Regions from separate parts of the Homo sapiens genome. Here all the other regions are reported to be linked to region 2. The links are microRNA targets in miRTarBase. Many come from high-throughput screens and were not tested one by one. Region 2 holds a microRNA gene; each other region holds the end of a gene's coding sequence.
What was found. Region 2 holds the annotated microRNA hsa-miR-653-5p (GUGUUGAAACAAUCUCUACUG, at 4,641-4,661, shown strand). A microRNA usually pairs through its seed, bases 2 to 8, with sites in the 3' UTR of a target mRNA and lowers its output. Matches are read on the target gene's strand: a 7mer-m8 pairs with bases 2 to 8, a 7mer-A1 pairs with bases 2 to 7 and ends in A, and an 8mer does both.

Region 1 (7,101 bases), not on the chromosome of region 2:
GATTGCTTGAGCCCAGGAGTTTGAGACCAGCCTGGGCAACATAGTGAGACCCTGTCTCTACTAAAAAGCACAAAAATGTAGCCAGGAGTAGTGGTGCACACCTGTAGTCCTAGCTACTGGTGAGGCTGATGTGGGAGTATCACTTGAGCCTGGGAGGTCAAGGCTGTAGTGCACCATGATCATGCCACTGTACTCCAGGCTGGGTGACAAGAGAGATCCTGTCTCCAGAAAAAAAAAAAAAAAGTTTGTGAGGTTGTGTTTTTGGAGATAAATGAAATTCTGTATTGTTATTATGTAATTGTATATTATTTAGTTCTTCTTAAATTACTGTGTTCTTTATGAAAAGCGTATGGTTTCCTTGGGAAGTAGTTTTGTCAGACATGTATAATTGCAGTATCTGTAAAGGTAAAATAAAAGAATAAAAGGTGGATCACAAAAATATGGTACTCTTTGTGTTTAGTAAGCCATGGAATTTTGAATGATTTTTTTTTGTTGTCGTTGTTAATTTACATTTACTATTTATTTATTTATTTAGAGACGGAGTTTTGCTCTTGTTGACCAGGCTGGAGTGCAGTGGCATGATCTTGGCTCACTGCAACCTCCGCCTCCCAGGTTCAAGCGATTCTCCTACCTCAGCCTCCCGAGTAGCTGGGATTACAGGTGCCGGCCACCATGCCCAGCTAATTTTTGTATTTTTAGTAGAGATGGGGTTTCGTCATGTTGGCCAGGCTGGTCTTGAACTCTTGACCTCTGGTGATCCACCTGCCTCAGCCTCCCAAAGTGCTGGGATTATAGGTGTGAGCCACTGTGCCCGGTCCATTTACTATTTATTAATAATACATTTCTCACACTGGACAAATTTTCTTTAAGTCATTTTACTGAAAGCAAAACTACTTCCTAAGGAAAACAAATACGTATTATAAAGAACGTAGTAATTTAAGAAGAACTAAATATACAACTATGTAATAACAATACAGAATCTCATGTATCCCCTCAAAACAACCTTAAAACTTTTTTGTTTTTTTTGTTTTTCTTTTTTGAGATGGAGTCTTGCTCTGTTGCTCAGGCTGGAGTGCAGTGGCGCGATCTTGGCAAGCTCCGCCTCCTGGGTTCACGTCATTCTCCTGCCTCAGCCTCCCCAGCAGCTGGGAATACAGGCGCACGCTGCCATGCCCAGCTAGTTTTTTGTATTTTTAGTAGAGATGGGGTTTCACCATGTTAGTCAGGATGGTCTTGATCTCCTGACCTTGTGATCCGCTCGCTTCGGCCTCCCAAAATGCTGGGATTACAGGCGTGAGCCACCACACCCGGCCACTAAAACAACCTTAAAATCTTAACTAGCATTTAAGTAATAAGTGCTTATTGTCAGTGGATGAAAAACTTTTTTATACTGGCCACTGTTTTTGGCAGATGTTGATGATTGCTTCTCTTACATGTGTTGCTGTTTTGTTTCCTCTTTAGGTACTTGATGAAGAAGCAGAAGTTTTTATAGTCAAAATGTGGAGATTATTGATATATGAAACAGAAGCCAAGAAAATTGGTCTTGTGAAGTAAAACTTTTTATATTTAGAGTTCCATTTCAGATTTCTTCTTTGCCACCCTTTTAAGGACTTTGAATTTTTCTTTGTCTTTGAAGACATTGTGAGATCTGTAATTTTTTTTTTTTGTAGAAAATGTGAATTTTTTGGTCCTCTAATTTGTTGTTGCCCTGTGTACTCCCTTGGTTGTAAAGTCATCTGAATCCTTGGTTCTCTTTATACTCACCAGGTACAAATTACTGGTATGTTTTATAAGCCGCAGCTACTGTACACAGCCTATCTGATATAATCTTGTTCTGCTGATTTGTTTCTTGTAAATATTAAAACGACTCCCCAATTATTTTGCAGAATTGCACTTAATATTGAAATGTACTGTATAGGAACCAACATGAACAATTTTAATTGAAAACACCAGTCATAAACTATTACCACCCCCACTCTCTTTTGATCAGAAATGGCAAGCCCTTGTGAAGGCATGGAGTTTAAAATTGGAATGCAAAAATTAGCAGACAATCCATTCCTACTGTATTTCTGTATGAATGTGTTTGTGAATGTATGTGTAAAAGTCTTTCTTTTCCCTAATTTGCTTTGGTGGGGTCCTTAAAACATTTCCCAACTAAAGAATAGAATTGTAAAGGAAAAGTGGTACTGTTCCAACCTGAAATGTCTGTTATAATTAGGTTATTAGTTTCCCAGAGCATGGTGTTCTCGTGTCGTGAGCAATGTGGTTTGCTAACTGGATGGGGTTTTCTTATTAATAAGATGGCTGCTTCAGCTTCTCTTTTAAAGGAATGTGGATCATAGTGATTTTTCCTTTTAATTTTATTGCTCAGAAATGAGGCATATCCTAAAAATCCTGGAGAGCTGTATTTAATGCATTTTTGCACTAATTGGTCCTTAGTTTAATTCTATTGTATCTGTTTATTTAACAAAAAATTCATCATACCAAAAAGTGTAAGTGAAAACCCCCTTTAAAACAAAACAAAAAAATGAAATAAAATTAGGCAAATTGACAGACAGTGAGAGTTTTACAAACATGATAGGTATTCTGCTCGGCAATTTGTAAGTTTACATGTTATTTAAGGATAAAGGTAAATCATTCAAGGCAGTTACCAACCACTAACTATTTGTTTTCATTTTTGTCTTGTAGAAGGTTTATATCTTGTTTTACCTTGGCTCATTAGTGTTTAAAAATGTACTGATGATGTGCTTAGAGAAATTCCTGGGGCTTTCTTCGTTGTAGATCAGAATTTCACCAGGGAGTAAAATTACCTGAAAACGTAAGAAGTTTTAAACAGCTTTTCACACAAATTAGATGCAACTGTTCCCATGTCTGAGTACTTATTTAAAAGAAAGGTAAAGATTGGCCTGTTAGAAAAAGCATAATGTGAGCTTTGGATTACTGGATTTTTTTTTTTTTTAAACACACCTGGAGAGGACATTTGAAAACACTGTTCTTACCCTCGAACCCTGATGTGGTTCCATTATGTAAATATTTCAAATATTAAAAATGTATATATTTGATCCTGGGGACTCATATTCTTTCAGAATCATGTAAATAAATGGCATCATGTTGTAATTGTGTGGTGCATACTAGAAAAGTTAAAAATATGGGCTGAACTTTTTATGGACTTGATTTTTATGACTATTGGTATCTAAAGGTCAAGGAAGCCATTTACATTATTTTGGATGAATCTACTATACATCTATGGAAATGTCTCTTTTATTTTAAATTCTGGTTTCTCAACGGAAAATTTCAGAAAAGATGCCCCTTGCCATTTTCGTTAATTTTTCAGTCTTTTCTTAGACACACCCCCAGCCTAAGACCTTGTTCGAGGAGTTTATTGTGTCTGTCTTTTCTTAACATACTGCACTGTTCTTAAGCATCATATTGTGTTGTTTTTATTTAGCCACTATTAACATGAAGGTTTATTCAGGTAGATTTGATTTCCTTTGCTTCGTTTCTTCTCCTGCTCTGTCAACTGTACTTATCTTAAAGGGCCACTCTAAAAACAAGGGAGATGTCGTAATCTGAAACCTTTGGGGAGATGTACTCTGTACTGCATAACATCTCCAGTGAGGTTTGTGACAGGACCTCAACTAAATATATGAATTTGTGCAAGTTCATATATTAAAGTTTCTGCAGCAGAGTGAAAATTGTTACAGTAAATGTGGTAGAAACTGTTAATCGCTTAATGCCAGTTTAAATCATGTTTTGTAACCAAGCTTCAGTAAAAGGCTTTAGATTGTCAGAGTTGGTTGATTTTTAGAATTGTATATATAAAGAATTAGACATTAAACAGGCATATTCTAGTGTCTGAAAATACACATAAGAAATTTCTATTAAGTTGCTTGAACTTTGTGGGTTAATTTTACCATAATCTCATAAATTAATTTTAGTTTGAAAACCTTATACAGTATGAATTCATTTTGCCATTTCAAGTTGTTATATAAAGAGCATGAAAGTCTTTTTTTGTTGTTTTTTTGGGGTTTTTTTTTTTTTGAGAGGAAGTTGTGCTTTTGTCGCCCAGGATGGAGTGCAATGGCGCGAGCTCAGCTCACTTCAACTTCCGCCTCCCGGGTTCTGGAGATATTCTGCTTCAGTTTTCTGAGTAGCTGGGATTACAGGTGCCCACCACGACACCTGGCTAATTTTTTGTATTTTTAGTAGAGACAGGATTTCACCTTGTTGGCCAGGCTGGTCTCAAACTCCTGACCTCAGGTGATCCACCCGCCTCAGCCTCCCAAAGTGCTGGTATTACAGGCGTGAGCCACCTTGCCTGGCCAAAGCGTGAACATCTTAAGAACCAGTCTTGATCTGGCAAAAAAGTAGTAGAATACTACTTTTCTTTATTTGTCCCTAAAAATAAAGTATGTACATCTGTTCACAAGGAAGAAAGGTAAGTTTGAAGTTGTTTTTCTTAAACTTTAATGTGACCCCAAATCATCTGAGGAGTGCTTGTAGAAATAGAGACACTGAAGTAGCAGCGCTGGGGTGGCGCCGCAGGCTTTGCATTTCTGGACAGCTCCCAGCTAATGTCATTGCCAACTGATCCAAGACTACATTTTGATTAGCACTTTAAGGTGTCTATTCAGTATTATTTTATCCTAACAGACTACATAAATGCAGCTGAATTTTCCTTTAAGTAGATTTTAAAGAGAAAAACATTTTTTGAGGCAAATACACGTAACTCATGAACGTAATGTAATCTTGCAAAATTATGTCTGAGAAAGCCCTAATATTCTAGGCTTTTTTTCCATCCAGCCCTGAAAATTTTTTCTGTAGATAACTTTATGTTGTAACTTATTCTGAATCTTATTATGGCATTTCCCTGTAAACTATGTAAGTGTAAGCTAATGATTATTTTGTGAAGCGTGCTGTTTCAGGTATTAATCTGCCATGAATACTAGATATAGTAGAAAAACTGAGAAAACATTTAGCTTGAGAGCCAATTTGAACTAGACACTATCTTTTTTTCTCCTTTTTAATGGAATAAATTTAATGCAAATAAGTGTAAGCAGGTATACAATGTTTAGATGAGGCTTATTTTCCCAACTCTTTTTAACAGGTTTTATGATATCCCCAATTTATACCCAAAAGACTGCTGAGAGGTTTTATGTCAAATTGATTACAAACTTCTCTGGGTTGTATTTCAGTCTTCTGTTAAGTATGAAATTGAGAAATAGTTTTGCTCAACAAAAGATGATGAGGGATTGATTTGTGAATGTCACTGGAGATAAAAGGGTATGAGAAGGAATCCCAAGCAGGCAAAGAAACAGTCTAGCTGTCAAGAAGAAAACAGGGAGATACATACCAAACCCAGGAGCTACTAATATAACAATCATACTATAGAGCGAAGTGAACTTACACTTTTTGATAAACTGATAGATTTTTTGTAATGTGATTATGGTAAAATACTGAAATATTTATGTTAATTTATTTGCATTTGAATGCTTACATTTTTAATTGACAGAATCTTTGCATTTCATTACTTGAGTCATGAAGGCGAAATTAAAGAATGGCAGTCTAAAATACCCAGGTAAAGAAGATAATTTCTAGAAACAAAAATAAAAATTCTTTTCAAGCCATGTTGTTTGAATTAAATGACACTCCTGAGTCTGTCTACTTTTTTTTTTTTTTTTGAGACAGCATCTTGAACCCAGGAGGTGGAGGTTGCAGAGAGCCGAGATTGCGCCACTGCACTCCAGCGTGAGCAACAAGAGCAAAACTCCATCTCAAAAAAATACATGTATTTCTGTTAGCTGATCATCTAATGGTGGCAAAAAAAATTACACGAGTTCAGGAACATCATTAGACATAAATACAAAATACTATGTGAATTATCAAATGTGATAAGCTGAGAGGAAATGGGAAATAGGAAGATTCTCAGTAGAAGTAGTAATATGTGGAAGGGGCTTTAGAGGTCACCTAGTCTGTTTTGCCCATTGTAATTATGTCAGTAGTCCCTGCAGGTGGTTTATCTAGAGGAGTATATATGGGGTTCTAATTCATGGTCTAGCATTGCACTATTAAATAACCACTAATGACAAGTAGTTTTACATGCATTCACGTGAAATCTTTCTGTTTGTTTGTTTGAGATAGGGTCTGCCTCTGTCACCCACGCTGGAGTGCAGTGGCAAGATCTTGGCTCACTGCAACTTCTGCCTCCTGGGCTCAAGTGATCCTCCCACCTCAGCCTCCCAAGTACTTGGGACCACAGGTGCACACCAACACACCCAGCTAATTTTTGTAGAGGAAGGGTTTCACCATGTTTCCCTGGTGGGCTTTGAACACCTGAGCTCAAACGATGCCTTGACCTCTCAAAGTGCTGGGATTACAAGTGTCAGCCACTGCACCTGGCCGACATTTTTTATTTGTTTAGAGACAAGGATTCCCTGTAAAGCTGCAGGGGCACAATCGTGGCTCTCACTGCAGCCTCGAATTCCTGGGCTCAGTGATCCTCTTGTCCCAGCCACCTGAGTAGCTAGGACTACAGGTGCACCCCACCATGCCTCCTATTTTTTGTGTTTGTGTGGAGATGAAGTGTGTTGTCTAGGCTGGTCTCAAGTGATCCTTCAGCCTCAGCCTCCTAAACTGCTGAGATTACAGGCATAAGCTTTTTTGATAAAGGAAAAACTAGTGAGCATTTCACATTGTAGAATCCAAAAACATGAAAGTTAATCTTTTCCTGTCAATTTACAGTTTTGTAAATGTACCCAGGTGAAGAGACTGGTCTGTTACTGTAGATAGAAAAGTACCAAAACAAAGTTTTACTTTGTTCAGTATACTGTCGAGGCAACTTTCTAAATGAGAGGGTCCAGGTTCTTGGTTAAAGAAGGAACTTAGAATTAACAAAATAGTGACAAACATTTGCGGCAGCGCGCCTCAGGGCACCAGCTGCAGGGGTCTGCCCACAGACCCTGACCCTGCGACAGATGAATAAAGTACACTGACACACAGATAGTCTGTTTTGCCAGTCCAGCTGAGGGTGTCCCACTGCTTACAGACTCCCTGGAGAGTTCTGAAAACAGTTGCAACTAGGCCTCAGTCAGCTAGTGAGAC
Region 2 (7,101 bases):
TACTCAAAGCTTTAAATAAGGCTACTTTTAGAGTTGGCCTTAGACTACCTAGAGGGCATGATGATTAATCTTTCACAAATTACAGATTTTATTTGTTCATGTCCAGTGAGGTGACTTCTTGGTGGACATCTTCATTGCAATTTTCAGCAGCTCTATCAATGACACATGTTAACTGAAGCTGACATGGGTTGCTCTTGCTCTCTTGGAATGTCTTTATTTCTGTCCTAATATGCAAAGGTAGTGCCAGAATTTCTTAATAGGAGGGCCTCAGGTATAACAATCTAGTTGACAGGAAAAGCAATGGAATCTTCACTGCATTTGCATCACAAGCATACTGTTTTTTCTTACGTGTGTTTTTTAGGGTGTCTTGGGATGTTGATCCTCTTTAAGTCAAATAGAAAAAATGAAAATGAAATGCCATAGCCAATATTAGAGATATATTAATTTTAGTCTTTGTTGCTTTTATATTTTTCTAGGACAAAGAGATCTTCAAAAATCAAAAATGAGGTTCACATTTACAAGCCGGTGCTTGGCACTGTTTCTTCTTCTAAATGTAAGTAAAACAAAAGTATTCAAAGCCATGCTAATGAAGAATGCTGAATAAGGAGGAATGTTTTGAGTGTGATTTAATTAGTATTTGCAAGGGTAGGCATTGGTCTCCAGAAGCCGAAACTAAGTTCCTCAAAGCCATTATTTTGCTTAATATTTTGTTAACAAATCTCTCCTCTGAACTGTCTCTAATTTAAATTAGTGTTTGTGGTCTACCCAGAAATTTGAGTTTTGTTTACAAAACTTTAGCATTAATTTTAGACATCTCCATATTATCTTAGAAATTAACATAGTTGGTAAATAATATTCTCAGGTAAAATGTTTTCATGTTGAAAAAACTATGTTTTGAATCTTAGTTCAAAACTATGATTTGAATGATAGTTTCTGGGCTGTTCAATCCTTTTAAAACATCTGGGCTGTTCAATTCTTTTAAAACTTCTGAACTCTTTCAGTCTGGCTATTGATTTCAAATGTATTTTTCATCAAAAACTGACTATGGAAACTTCAAGTCTTTATATACCACTATTATTCTATAACTCTTTCTCCAATCTTTTAAATTATGTTCAGTTTGTGTAATTCTATATTGTTTTATTCCTAAAAGATTTAGCAAGTAATCGGAAATATAATCATCTTAGAGAACACTATCAATGCCTATTATTTGTGTCAACATTGTTAACCTACCATCACATCAGCTTCAATAGCACATGAATGGGAGATGAGTAAATTTTACGTAAATCAATGTGGAGCTGCCTTGCTTCTTATCCTTTCTGTCACATCAGAGTAACATTTGCTAATAAATTACAGTTGGCAGCAAAGATCACTCAATATCTCATACTGTCATACTGACCCACACAAAGCTTGCATAGGGTTCGAGGATTTCCATTGTTTATTAATGTGTAGTTATAGGCCTACAAGTCTGTCTAAACTGTTTGTCTTTATATTATTCAAGAAAAAAATATTGCTAGTATTTCATAAATGTTAATTTAATTTGTAAGGCAATTTTTATTTTGTAATATTGTACATCAAATAAATGGTGTATGGGAATGACTATTAATGCAACCCTTTTGCACCTATTTGGATAATGAGTATAACTTATTTTATTGTCAGTTTGTCTTATCATTTTATCCTATTAAATATTTCTTTAGATAAATTACAGTAAAATTTTCTAAAAGTAATTAGTATTTGGAAATGCAGGTTTCTTTATGTCACTGGAAATATAATAAAAACACTAAACAAGACTACTATGGAAACTAATAGAATATTTTAATTTGCCAGTAAATACCCAGGCCTTATGTGGTCTTCTATGGATGTAAAAATATTGCTATATATTATTGATATTGTTATTTTTCATAGCTCAAATGAAATCCTAAGTGATCTGGTATATGTGAATATTTTTGAATAATCATGCTTCATAAATAATTATATTGAACATGACAGAAGAAAAACTAAAGAAAGAACTAAATACTAACAAAATTGTTTGAAGATTATCTAATTACCTTTTTTATTACAAAGGCTTTAGAAAATTTGTAGTGTGTTCAAAAAGCAACGTAGGTCATTTTTATTCAAAACTTTTACTAATGTAGTCTATAATTTAAATATTGAAAAAAATGCACATCTTTGCATGAGCCATGGACAGAAACATTTTATGGCTTGTGGGCACCTCTTGACCAGCAAGCATAACTGAACAGGGCACTTAAATGGGTTTGTGCTCTCTTTGCTGTGACAGAGAGAAATTTGCTTCTCTCTCTGTATTTGGATTATATATTTGATTTGGAGGATTTGTCCATAAAACAAAATTTGATATGTCCATTTTCTTCAAAACGTTTATTATGTTCACACTGACACTTCTCAGAGAAAAAAAATTTTAATGACAATGTTCCTAATTAATCCGAAATATTACTTTTTAGACAATAGATTGTTGTGAAAATACACTAACTATTGAACTCTATCAACTCGATTTCCATATAGGTTTTAAAGTCTCAGTTTGGGTCACCACCTTCAATTAGCCTCTTTCCATTAACCATAACCACCCACTCAATTCCTCTCCCTCCTGCGAGGTATACAGTAAGCTTAGAGCAGCAGTTGGTATACAGTGAGCTCTCAGAAAAAGATGCCAGTGACGATGCTGATGACAACAAAGCCAATGGTAATAACAAAGACATAAAAATTAGGTTCTTCAGAGCAGGTGTTATTGTTACTTGTTTACTTATCTATGTTCACCTATTTGCTTTGAATTTATGATATATGCAGTTTCGTTGTTTATATAATGTAAGTAGAATTACACAGTACACCAGCCAGGCATCTGATCTTACCTGGGAAAACCAGGGCTAACACTTTTTACAACAGTGTGCTTTGTCCTTTCTTATTTTGAAATGTGTAAGTAACTGAAAAGCAAAAATAATTATATACATTATCAACATTAAGGATGGTGACATGAAAATCTCATTGGTTGCATCAGTTTGTGGATTCTAGGTTTACATACTTTTTAGAGTAGTTTTGCATGTGGCAATCAATAGGAAGCTCTCCCTTCAGCACAGCAGCTTGGGTCCATACACTCAGTGGGCTTGAACTATTGCAGAGATGGACCATTTCTCAAAGTTCCATGAAGAACAGCTCTGTAACTGTCTCTGTACTTCTAGAAACTGCCTGTAACCCAAAAGCAAACTGACTGTCCTACATCACAGTAGGAATTGCATAAGCATATGACCATTTCAAATCAGATTCCTTTCCTGTGGATTCCATGATTAGTGTGGATAAAATCAAGAATGTAAGCTCTATGAGAGCAGGTGGCTTGCCAGTTTGGTTCACTGCTGAATTTCCAGAACCTAGAAGAGTGCCTGACATGTGAGAGGCACTCAAAGTATTTGTCGACTGAAAAAAACTGATGATGTTTGGGCTGCTGACTACTGCTGTTGGTGGCAGCTTGGTGGTCGTATGTGTGACGCCATTTACTTGAACCTTTAGGAGTGACATCACATATACGGCAGCTAAACTGCTACATGGGACAACAATTAAGAGTTTTGTTTGTTTGTATGTTGAAAAATCATGTAAGATGGTTTATATGCAAAGCTTTGAAAACTGATGTTTATTCAGAAAAACAATATGCCCTTAATATCTCATTTCTATCTGAATGTGAACATATAATCATATTTTTATTTAACCCCCTGAAATAAGTAGTATAGACATAACACTTATAATAAGTAGGATATTTGAAGTCTCTTACATTGTTTGGTAGTTTCATCCAATCACTACTGGTTTTATTTTGTCTCTGTATTGCTGAAAATGATACCACCTTCCCAGCAATTCTTATTTGTATAAAATTATCAGCAAAAGTTTAACATTTAATAAACTTTATGAAATTTGTATATGTGTTATTTTTAAGCAGTAGTAATTCCATGATTGTAATTATATATATATAATATACATAAAATCATACATATACATATATTTATATGTTTATATCTATCTATCTGTCTGTCTATCTATCTATCTATCTATCTATCTATCTATCTATCTATCTATCTATACAGTCAGCCCTCTGTATCCATGGGTTGTACATCCATAGATTGAACCAATCTTGGATAGAAAATATTCAGGAAAAAATTGTATTGTAAACATACAGACTATTTTTCTTTTTATTATTTCCTAAATAATACAGTATAACAACTATTTACATCATATTTACATTGTACTAGGTATAAATAATCTGGGGATGATTTAAATAATACAGGAGGATGTACATAGGTTATATGCAAATACTACACCATTTTATATGAAGGACCTAAGCATCCTCAGATTTTGGTATCCACATATGCAAATACTACACCATTTTATATGAAGTACCTAAGCATCCTCAGATTTTGGTATCCACAGGAGGTCCTGCAACCAATCCCCTGAGTATACCAAGGGATGACTGTATGTATAAACGTAATGCCCCAATGGGTATGTTATTTTAGGAAGAAGGCCACTGAGACATTCATCTACTGTTGGGAAAATTCCATCTTCAGTGCTCAAATATGAACCAGACCAGGAACTGATGCAGATTATTACTGCTCATCTGACAACAGAGGTTCTAATTTTTCATTCCTTCAGTGTTGAAACAATCTCTACTGAACCAGCTTCAAACAAGTTCACTGGAGTTTGTTTCAATATTGCAAGAATGATAAGATGGAAGCTACTTTCATCAGCATGAATTATAACTACTCGTATACAGATTGTCGTATTTCCACTGTTACTGATGTTAAAACTGCATTAAAGCAAATAAAAATATAATTGAAAATACAAGCATAGGGTTTTCTACTTGTTATCCTCGGACATACTATTTGCCTATGGTTTCCATGAATTTCCAACTAGAGCAAGAAAATCTCTTGGTTGGTTGTCAGCCATATAAAAAGAGAATTCAGAATGTTACTTTTGGGAAGAAAGCCAGATTTAAACAAAATACTTCCCAGTGTTTAGCATATCTAATACAAGTGACAGATAAGATTTATATATGACATCATGTTCCATCTTCTAATTCGATTTGAAGATGGTGAGAAAATGGTCCAGAAATTAATAATACATCAAATGATCATTCTCATATTAACTGAAGATTTTAGAGCCACAAAAGAAGAATCTAAAATAAATGTATAAGTTGAACCAATAATTAATATCTCTATTGTGAAGGCATCATGATCCATTCTTGTTTTGATGGTTGCCTAATATGTAATTGAATTTTTAAAACACACATATTCATACAAAAGTTGAGTAATAAACTAAAAAAAGAAACCTCAACATGGAATCCCTTCAAATTACTCTTTTTTAAAAATTTTGCAAATCGTGTTCCAATTCCATTAGGAATATCTAAGAATTTTATGACTGATGATTCTTTATTGTTCATAATTTCAAGTATCAGAAATATATTTTATAGTGTTGGTCCATCTTGCCAGACTGTAAGCTCTATGAGAGCACAGTCTACACTTATTTTATTCAGCACTGTATCCTCAGCATCTGGCACAATGTTGGGCTCATCAAGTTTGATCAATATTTGCTGACTGATCTGAAGACCAGTGGGGAAAGTGTCATATATCAAAAGAATTGTGTTCAGCTACACTGGTAAAGGATTTGCACAGTTATAATCATTTTTATGGGTTCATTACTTTCTCTTCTGACATAAATTCAAGAGACATTAAAATTAGAAATCAACAAAATGTTTAAAGAGTAGTGTCAACCTTATTCACAATTGGTGTCCATTTGAAGTTATCACAGTAATGTTATAATAATGATAAGTATTCACCCTCTTCTCTTTGCAAGATATTTCCACTAGGATGGCTTGCTACCATCTCCAAATCTAACCCAAAATAGGACTTACTTACCAAGGGGGAGAAGTTCCCCCTAATAAGGTTTTCCTTTCCCAGCATCTTCCCTTTCTTGGGAACTATTTTTTTCCCCAAATATCTAGGCTAATTATCTGGGCTATTTGACTATTACTGTTTCCCATTCCTTGTATTCAAATATGCCTTCATGTTTTTATTATTGAGAAGGTGCTAAGAGTGGTACTTTCTTGTTCCAACATGGACTGATCTAGTCCAGCCAGGCCTTCAACTTCCTGGCTGCCCCCACCCCACCCCGCAACTTTAACCTGTGGACATCTGATGCCTGCTGCATGAATTTTACTAAAAATTCTCCTTTCACAACCTTCACTGATCAAAAATCTACAAAACATCTTTATCATATATATTATGTTATATACCATGTTTTAACAATATTAGCTAAAATGTTTTGAACCTTTCATGTCCCTGACACTTGGTGTTTATTGTCTTGTTCATCCTCACAACATGACAGATGATAAATATTATTCTTACCGCTCTTCTTATTTTACGTTTCCTAGGTTGAGGAAACAGATCTAGTGAGAGGTTGCTAACCTGCTCAAAGTGACAAAACAAGTTTTAACTCTTTTTTTGTTATCTGAAGATTCAGATAATGCAGTCTTGAAAGCAAAGTCCTGACCTTCTTACCCTCAAATATGCTCCCCTTCAGGCAAGATGGTTTTCTCACAGTGGCTCATGCATGTCATTTCCAACCTCCAGACTTTTGTGGGAAAGGTCCCTCCATCCCAAAAGGCTTCTCGACCCCCCCTTGTGCCTATGCAGAAACTTCCCACACTCAAGATACAATTCAAATTCTACCTTGTATCTGTAGCCATCCTGAATATTTTTGCTCCCTACTCTCTCCAAACTCTGAATTTTGATTGGATTCTGTGCTGGACAGCTTAGCAGTTAGTGATGTGCTGTCGTGTAGGACATATACAATGACACACATGGAAAACAGTGAGGATTCACCATGAAGAGCCAGGAATATACATGTCAACTTAATAGGGATGAGTTTTGTTTAGAAACTAGCACATATAGAAGAGTACATAACACCACTTCTGCCATCAATACAATTGGAGAAACTTCAATCTTAGAATTGAAATTTCAACGGGTATGATAGAAATTAAGCAGCATTCCTAAATTTAGAAAAAGGAAAGTCAGTGCAGGCTGATGTTTTTAGGTCTCCTCAAAAAAAGAAAAA
Region 3 (7,101 bases), not on the chromosome of region 2:
GGCGGAGGTTGCAGTGAGCCAAGATTGCGCTGCTGCACTCCAGCCTGGGCAGCAAGAGTAAGACTCTGTCTCAAAAAAAAAAAAAAAAAACCCTAAAATTGGTACTCTTTATTATTATTATTATTATTTTTTGAGAAGGAGTCTCTCTCTGTTGCCCAGGCTGGAGTTCAGTGGCGCGATCTCAGCTCACTGCAACCTCCACCCCCCGGGTTCAAGTGATTCAAATTGATTACATCAAGATTTATTATTTTAAACTGCAAGAATAAATCTATAAATGTCTGCTTTTTTAACAGTAAAGAGTCTGTCTTGAAATAATGTTTCTTGTAACTAAAACTTATGGTGAATTTGTTTTAACCAGATGGTTGTGTGTTTGGGACAAGGATTAATACAGGGAAAAAAGAGCTGGATCATATGCTTTTAAAGCTGGAGAGCGAATACTTAATTTAGTGGCTTTGAATTAATTTTAGCTCTAAAACCTTTCCTTCAAAATGTCGTAGAAAAGTCCAACATACAAATTGATCTGGAGCTGAAAACAAAATTGATCCAGATCAAGATACTCCAGATCCCCTTTTCCGTAGGCCTCAGTTTTGTCACCTCTCCAGAGTGTTATCCCCATTGTACACCTTTAAAGATCAGACAGTGGTAGGAGTGCATCTAGAACTTGTACCTGCACCTTTTGATGACTAATTTGACACAAGGTTGCAACCTAGGGCTCAATACCATATATGGCTTGCATGGGTAGTTTTTTTTTTTGCCTCAGTTTTAGGGAGGGGAAGTGGAGTTTGTTTAGCTAAAAAACTAACTTATTTATGATGATTGAAAATTGGAAGATTCACAATTTTAAAATTCTGACTTTCGGCTTCCTTTGAAAAACTGAAAGATCTGTAAGAGTTGGCCTATACACTTGTTGTAAGAACGAAGAGTCAAGTAATGGATGCTCTTTTTTGGTGGGGCATATTACATCTAAAGTTGTTTTCAGAGCTTGCCCTCATTTCAAAATTAATTGGTTGTATGAATTATTTTTAATGTGTATTAAGTGTTTTCATCTCTCCTCAAATATTTTTAAGTATTTTTAAAGTGTCTTTTTTTTTTCTTAAGGACCTAGATGACATAGAAGATGAAAATGAACAGCTAAAGCAGGAAAATAAAACTCTTTTGAAAGTTGTGGGTCAGCTGACCAGGTAGAGGATTCAAGACTCAATGTGGAAAAAATATTTTAAACTACTGATTGAATGTTAATGGTCAATGCTAGCACAATATTCCTATGCTGCAATACATTAAAATAACTAAGCAAGTATATTTATTTCTAGCAAACAGATGTTTGTTTTCAAAATACTTCTTTTTCATTATTGGTTTTAAAAAAGCATTATCCTTTTATCTCACAAATAAGTAATATCTTTCAGTTATTAAATGATAGATAATGCCTTTTTGGTTTTGTGTGGTATTCAACTAATACATGGTTTAAAGTCACAGCCGTTTGAATATATTTTATCTTGGTAGTACATTTTCTCCCTTAGGAATATACATAGTCTTTGTTTACATGAGTTCAAATACTTTTGGGATGTTACCTTCACATGTCCTATTACTGATGTGTGCAACCTTTTATGTGTTGATGACTCACTCATAAAGGTTTTTGTCTACTGTCATTTGTTCTTTCCACTTATTCTAAGCATTTAGAGTAATAGAGTCATACTTTTTTATAACAGCAACCTTTTAAAAGGAAAGCTCTTATAAAGTCACTGTCATGTTTTAGTTGACTAAATATAAATTTAAGAGAATACTTGAATTGTGCTATAGTAAATAAAAATTTACTATTTTGTGTTTGAATATTGAAAAATTGAATCACTTTAACTCCTGAAAAACATACAATTGTAATTTCAATGTAAAATTTCTTATGTAGGTACTACCTTTTTTTATCGTTCCAAGGTTTGCTAGTGAACACAGGATATTTTAAAAGTTTTTTATTCTTCGGGCCTGGAAAGTGTACAAAGTCAGTGTAGGAGAAAAAAATCCATATTTTTATATTAGCATGCACACTAAAAACCAAAATATTATTCATACTTAAAACATTCATACAAAACAATATGTAAGCAGAAATAGTACTAAAATACTTTGCCTAATTTCTAAGTTGAAGAATAACACTGGGACACAGTTTTTTCATATGAGAGAATATTCCGCTATTTCAAATTTAAGGGATTTTCTTCCTAACATTGAAATTTTAAAAACAGAGTTACTTCTAAATAATTATACAGATTTTTTCTTCTATTAAATATTATTATTTAGAATTGTTTTTGTATTACATATTCATGTTAAGAACCCCGTCTTCCCTTAAAATACATTAAAATTATGACATTTTTGCTTTGTGATTGAATTTCAAATAGCAGTATGGTATCCTTTTATCTAGTTAATATATGAAAGTGGCTTGAATATAGTCAAATCCATTTTAGGTACTCTACTGACTTTTTCCTTCACTTGCCAAGCCCTTTTATTGTTCACTGTTAGAAAAATAGAGAAGGTGAGACAGCTGGGGGAAAATGTGGAGTAAATGATAATCAAATGTTGAATTCTAAAAGTCTCTACATTTACCTAGGTTGGCTTTCTCCCCCAGTTCAGAAGTTTCCAGCTTGGCCAATCATCAGAATCACTTGAGGAACTTAGAAAGAACTCCCTGGCTGTAGCTCCTATGTAGGTTTAGGTTGAGACTCTGGATTCCACAATTTTTAAAGGTTACCATCTGAGGTTTCTGATCATAGTCTACTTTTGAAGCAGCTGCTGCTGTTTCTTTATTCCATTGAACACCCTGGAATTGACATAATTTTATCTATCAGCATTTCTCCCCTTTTAGTTTATTTAATAATTAACCCGGTCTCCAGGGCAGTTTTCATATGACCATGTGTATATTCACTGCTCACGAAAAAGTTTAATGTTAGATTACCAAATTTAATATAGTTACAGAATTACTGCATAAGGGCTTCCCTTCTTGGAGACTCTTACCCAGCATGGGAACAGTGATCTGCCCACATGACAGGGTGGTATGCCAGGCATAGTTAACTGCTTTTGGTTGTGAGGTACTCATCTTCCTTTAGTTACCCTTAGTTATGTGGCACACATGTCCTTATTGCCTAGTTCGTCATCCACACTTTGGATCTTGTGAAAATGCTGTTAGTATCCAACCTTAAAATATATTAGTATATGGGTTTTTATTAAAAGAATTACTTTGAATTTTCTATTTAATTCATATGTAAATAAAGGAACATTTCATTTCACTTAAAAAAATTATATCAGTTATTAGGCTGGGTGCAGTGGCTCATGCCTGTAATCCCAGCACTTTGGGAGGCCAAGGCGGGTGGATTACCAGAGTTCGGGAGTTTGAGACCAGCTTGACCAACATGGAGAAACCCCGTCTCTACTAAAAATACAAAATTAGCCAGGTGTGGTGGCGCATGCCTGTAATCCTGGCTACTCAGGAGGCTGAGGCAGGAGAATCGCTTGAAAACCCAGGAGACAGAGGTTGCGGTGAGCTGAGATTGCGCCATTGTACTCCAGCCTGGGCAAGAAGAGCGAAACTCTGTCTCCAAAAAAAAAAAAAAAAAAATTATTAATACTTTTAAAGACTGAGCTGTTTAAGAATTTTTTGGGGAACATTTCTAGCAGTGATTTTTTTGGCCTTTAATGATAGCGTAAAGACAGGAGCCTTACAACTTAGGCAAAGCATTTCACATGCAGTCCTTCTTCCATCTCAAAATATGTACTTATTTTACATACAGAATTTTACACTAACCATTGAAAAATAAAGTAGGATCTGCTACAGTTTCACCTGAAAATTTATAAAAAGTGTTGAGATTGGTAGAAGGTAGTTTTTAAGTACATGTGCACTACCCTAAAAGACTTGTCTATTGTCAATAAAGTGTTAGTATTTGTGAAATTATTATTCCTGTTCAGAAATACTATTTCTTAAATCTCCTGGGAATTTGTGGCATAATAAAGCACATTCAAAGTTCTAATGTATTTATGAGCTCATTTTCAAAATAGTAAGTTTGTCATCTTTAAAATGAACATGACTTGCCTCCTTGATTTCTGAAATGAATTAATTGAAGATTGCTATAGTAATCTTTATTTCATCTTTCTAGAGTTGTTGACAATTTTATTATACAACAGTTACCATTAGAGAAGGAGGGAAGGGCTTTTGGGTGTGTATTTATAGGTACTAAGGGATTTACTAAATATAGTAGATTAGCACTGTCACACTTGTTCAAGTAGTTTCAAACATAGAAAATTAAGTATCAGGTATGTGGAGCAATGTAGTTTTTTTTTTTCTTCAGTTTAAAAAATTTTTAATTGTGGTAGAAGCAATGTATTCTTAAGGTGAAAAACCTACCTCGGTTACATGTGGTTTGTGTTTTTTGGATTAATCTGGATTTTATAATTAGAAATAAAAATGTAAGATTTTGAATCCACTTAATTTCTTGAAAATAGTACAAGTCAGTGTAATAGAGAAGCATTCATATATTCAACACTGTAAGACAAAACAGCAGAGACCTTGGATTTGATAATTGATCTGATATCCTGGACAGTATTCATATGTACAGTGATAGGTATCTTTCTTTGGAGTTTTTTTTTTGTGCATATGTGTATAGTTTTATGGGTTCTGAGTTGGTGACCAGTAAGTTGCATGTAGTGCTGGCACTTACTTAATAACTATTCATGATATTGTTAATAACTTGTTATAGGATTGTATTCCCAATTACAGTCTCTAAGATTGTAATTGATATTATCTGAGAGGTAGTGTGACAACTTTCTTTTGTTGTTACATTAAGCCGAAAACATAATACTAATAGACAACTAACAGTTTGCTTATCAGGCACATCAACTAAGGCACCTCCCCCCATGCTAAGTTTCTCCTGGATATATGGAAGTTGATTGTTTCCCAGTTTAAAAACTTGAACTAATATCTCCTAAGAAAATCTGAGTCCATATTGTTTTTATTTTACTTAGCTAGAATCTCATAGCATGTTAAAGTCATATCCTTATCCCCACTAAAAATAACTATGTCTATGTGAGAGGAATATAGTATGTGGGAGCTGTATTAAATACTATTACAGGTGTTACAGAATCTTTAAATAAATGGACATGGACCAACTTTCCATCTAGTAGTGTACGATCTATATAGTGCATGTCAGTAGCACAAAATGCAGTCTTAGCATTAGCCTGTCTAATCTGAATAGTTTACTCAAAAGTACTTCTTTGTGTTAAGTATTCAGCCACTGTTTTTAGATCTAGTTAATAGGTTCTATTTAATTTGCTACAACATTTACTGAATGGTGGAGTGAAAAAACTGATGCATACTGGGAAATATCTACCATTTTTTAAAGATAATGTTAATTAGGAAAAGAACACTTTTAAGGAATTTATAGCAGTGATGAAATGAATTCAGTTATATCAGATACACCAAACTGTTGATGGTATTTAAATGTGACTTCAAGTTAGTATTTCTGTATATATTATTGATTACTGGTTTGTTTTTAGATATGTAAGTCTGTTCTAATCTACAGTTCACATATCGACAGTTACTCTGGTAATAATAGAATGTTAGTGATGATCACTTGGTGGATGTTGATTAAGTGCCTGTGTTTTGTTTCCTCCTCTGGATACCAAATAGGTGTATGCTACTTTTTTGGTGAACTTATTTCTTGGAAGATTTGGCTATGCTATTCAGGGTTTTTATTCTTATGTTTTTCTTCTAAATTTAAGTAGCATCCTGCTGCTACCATATTAAAGCTAAAATTTAACTTTTGCTGAAGAATCAGCTAATTCAGGTAATCCAAATATTTGTGGAAAAACATCTGGATAATTTATTGAACACATTAGTATTGTGTTAGACAGCTTTGATCATTCCCATTTCATAGGTTTTTATTGTGGAATAGTCAACTTAATATAGATTCACTTTCAATTTGCATGTATAAAGTAATACTCAATAAAATTTTTTTCATTTATTTTTCAACAGTGGTTATTTTTTTTCTTCCTGTACTATCAGTAAAATCCTGACTATGAGTTTTACTTTTGAAGCTAAAGGATAATGCTGGTAATCTAATTATGTACCTCTTACAGAAACCATATGCAGCACTTTAAAAATCTTTATTTGGTATATTATTTTAGGTGGACAATGATTTAAGACTCAAAGCCATCATATTAAGGTCTAAATACATTAGTGGTGGGGTTTCTCGAATAAATGAGGAAGTGCACAAAAGTTCAGCCTGACTGAAAATTTTAATTGTGTTTTAAAACTACATGAATAATTTCTTGATTCAAAATCAGAACTCTTATAAACTAAATCTGATGGTGTCCAAAGAATTTCAGGTCCTTCAAAGTTTGTAAAAGATAAGTAGGGGCCTAGGAATATAAAAATTTAGACTTTTTTAGTAAATGGTTTACATAACCTTTTGTCTTAATTTGTCATTCTTCATACACAGGCACAAGCTAATCAGTCTTCTCTACTTCTAGAACTCTAAATCTTCTCAGTAATGTCATACAAGTCTAACAAGAGGAAAAGCATCCTTAAGTCAGTCTATTTAGATAAACTCTTCAAGTCCCTATATAAGGACGTATTCCACTAGCAAGCCAGTAAATTTTTCCAAGGTCACATAATCTTACATGAAATGGAACCTTTCATCTTAGACTTCATCAAACTCAATTTTTTCCCTTCTAGATTCACTTTGTGTTTATGCATGCATGCACGCGTGCACACAATTCTATCAGCAGCTGTAAACTACCCACATATTTTCTTAATCTCATTTTTTCAGTTTTTCTTCATCTTTAAAAGAGGTTACATTTCATTCCTGGTCAACTCTTAAAAAGAATTATGTAATGTTGGGCCTTCATATTAAAGAGAGAGACTGGTTATAAGATCCTTTACAGTCCATTCATTTTATTCTGATGTCTAACCAGATAGACACTAGCAAGCAAAACTTCCCTCTTAATCCTGGACCAAATGCATAATTTTACTGTCACTTTCAAAAATCTGTTATGACTGAATCAAAATCCTTTTAAAGAAAGGAAAAAGCTCCTTTTGTGTCAAATAGTTGAACAACATGAAAACAGTAT

Region 1: the mRNA of RBM25 is a reported target of hsa-miR-653-5p. Seed matches in the 3' UTR shown: 7mer-A1 at 5,232-5,238.
Region 3: miRTarBase lists PAWR as a target of hsa-miR-653-5p. Seed matches in the 3' UTR shown: 7mer-m8 at 4,510-4,516 and 7mer-m8 at 5,997-6,003.

What each region holds. Positions count from the first base shown.
Region 1 is chr14:73,118,252-73,125,352 of GRCh38, forward strand. It overlaps RBM25 (RNA binding motif protein 25), which reads left to right. Exons shown (of 19, transcript NM_021239.3): 19 at 1,462-5,648. The coding sequence ends at 1,554. Among named protein-coding and RNA genes, the nearest start is that of PSEN1, 15 kb to the right of the region's middle. RefSeq lists an enhancer at 6,902-7,101.
Region 2 is chr7:93,480,383-93,487,483 of GRCh38, reverse strand. MIR653 (microRNA 653) reads left to right here and starts at 4,629; the gene lies at 4,629-4,724. It overlaps CALCR (calcitonin receptor), which reads left to right. Exons shown (of 14, transcript NM_001742.4): 3 at 477-553. The coding sequence starts at 503. It overlaps MIR489 (microRNA 489), which reads left to right and starts at 3,465; the gene lies at 3,465-3,548.
Region 3 is chr12:79,586,691-79,593,791 of GRCh38, reverse strand. It overlaps PAWR (pro-apoptotic WT1 regulator), which reads left to right. Exons shown (of 7, transcript NM_002583.4): 7 at 1,099-7,101. The coding sequence ends at 1,185. Among named protein-coding and RNA genes, the nearest start is that of PPP1R12A-AS2, 100 kb to the left of the region's middle.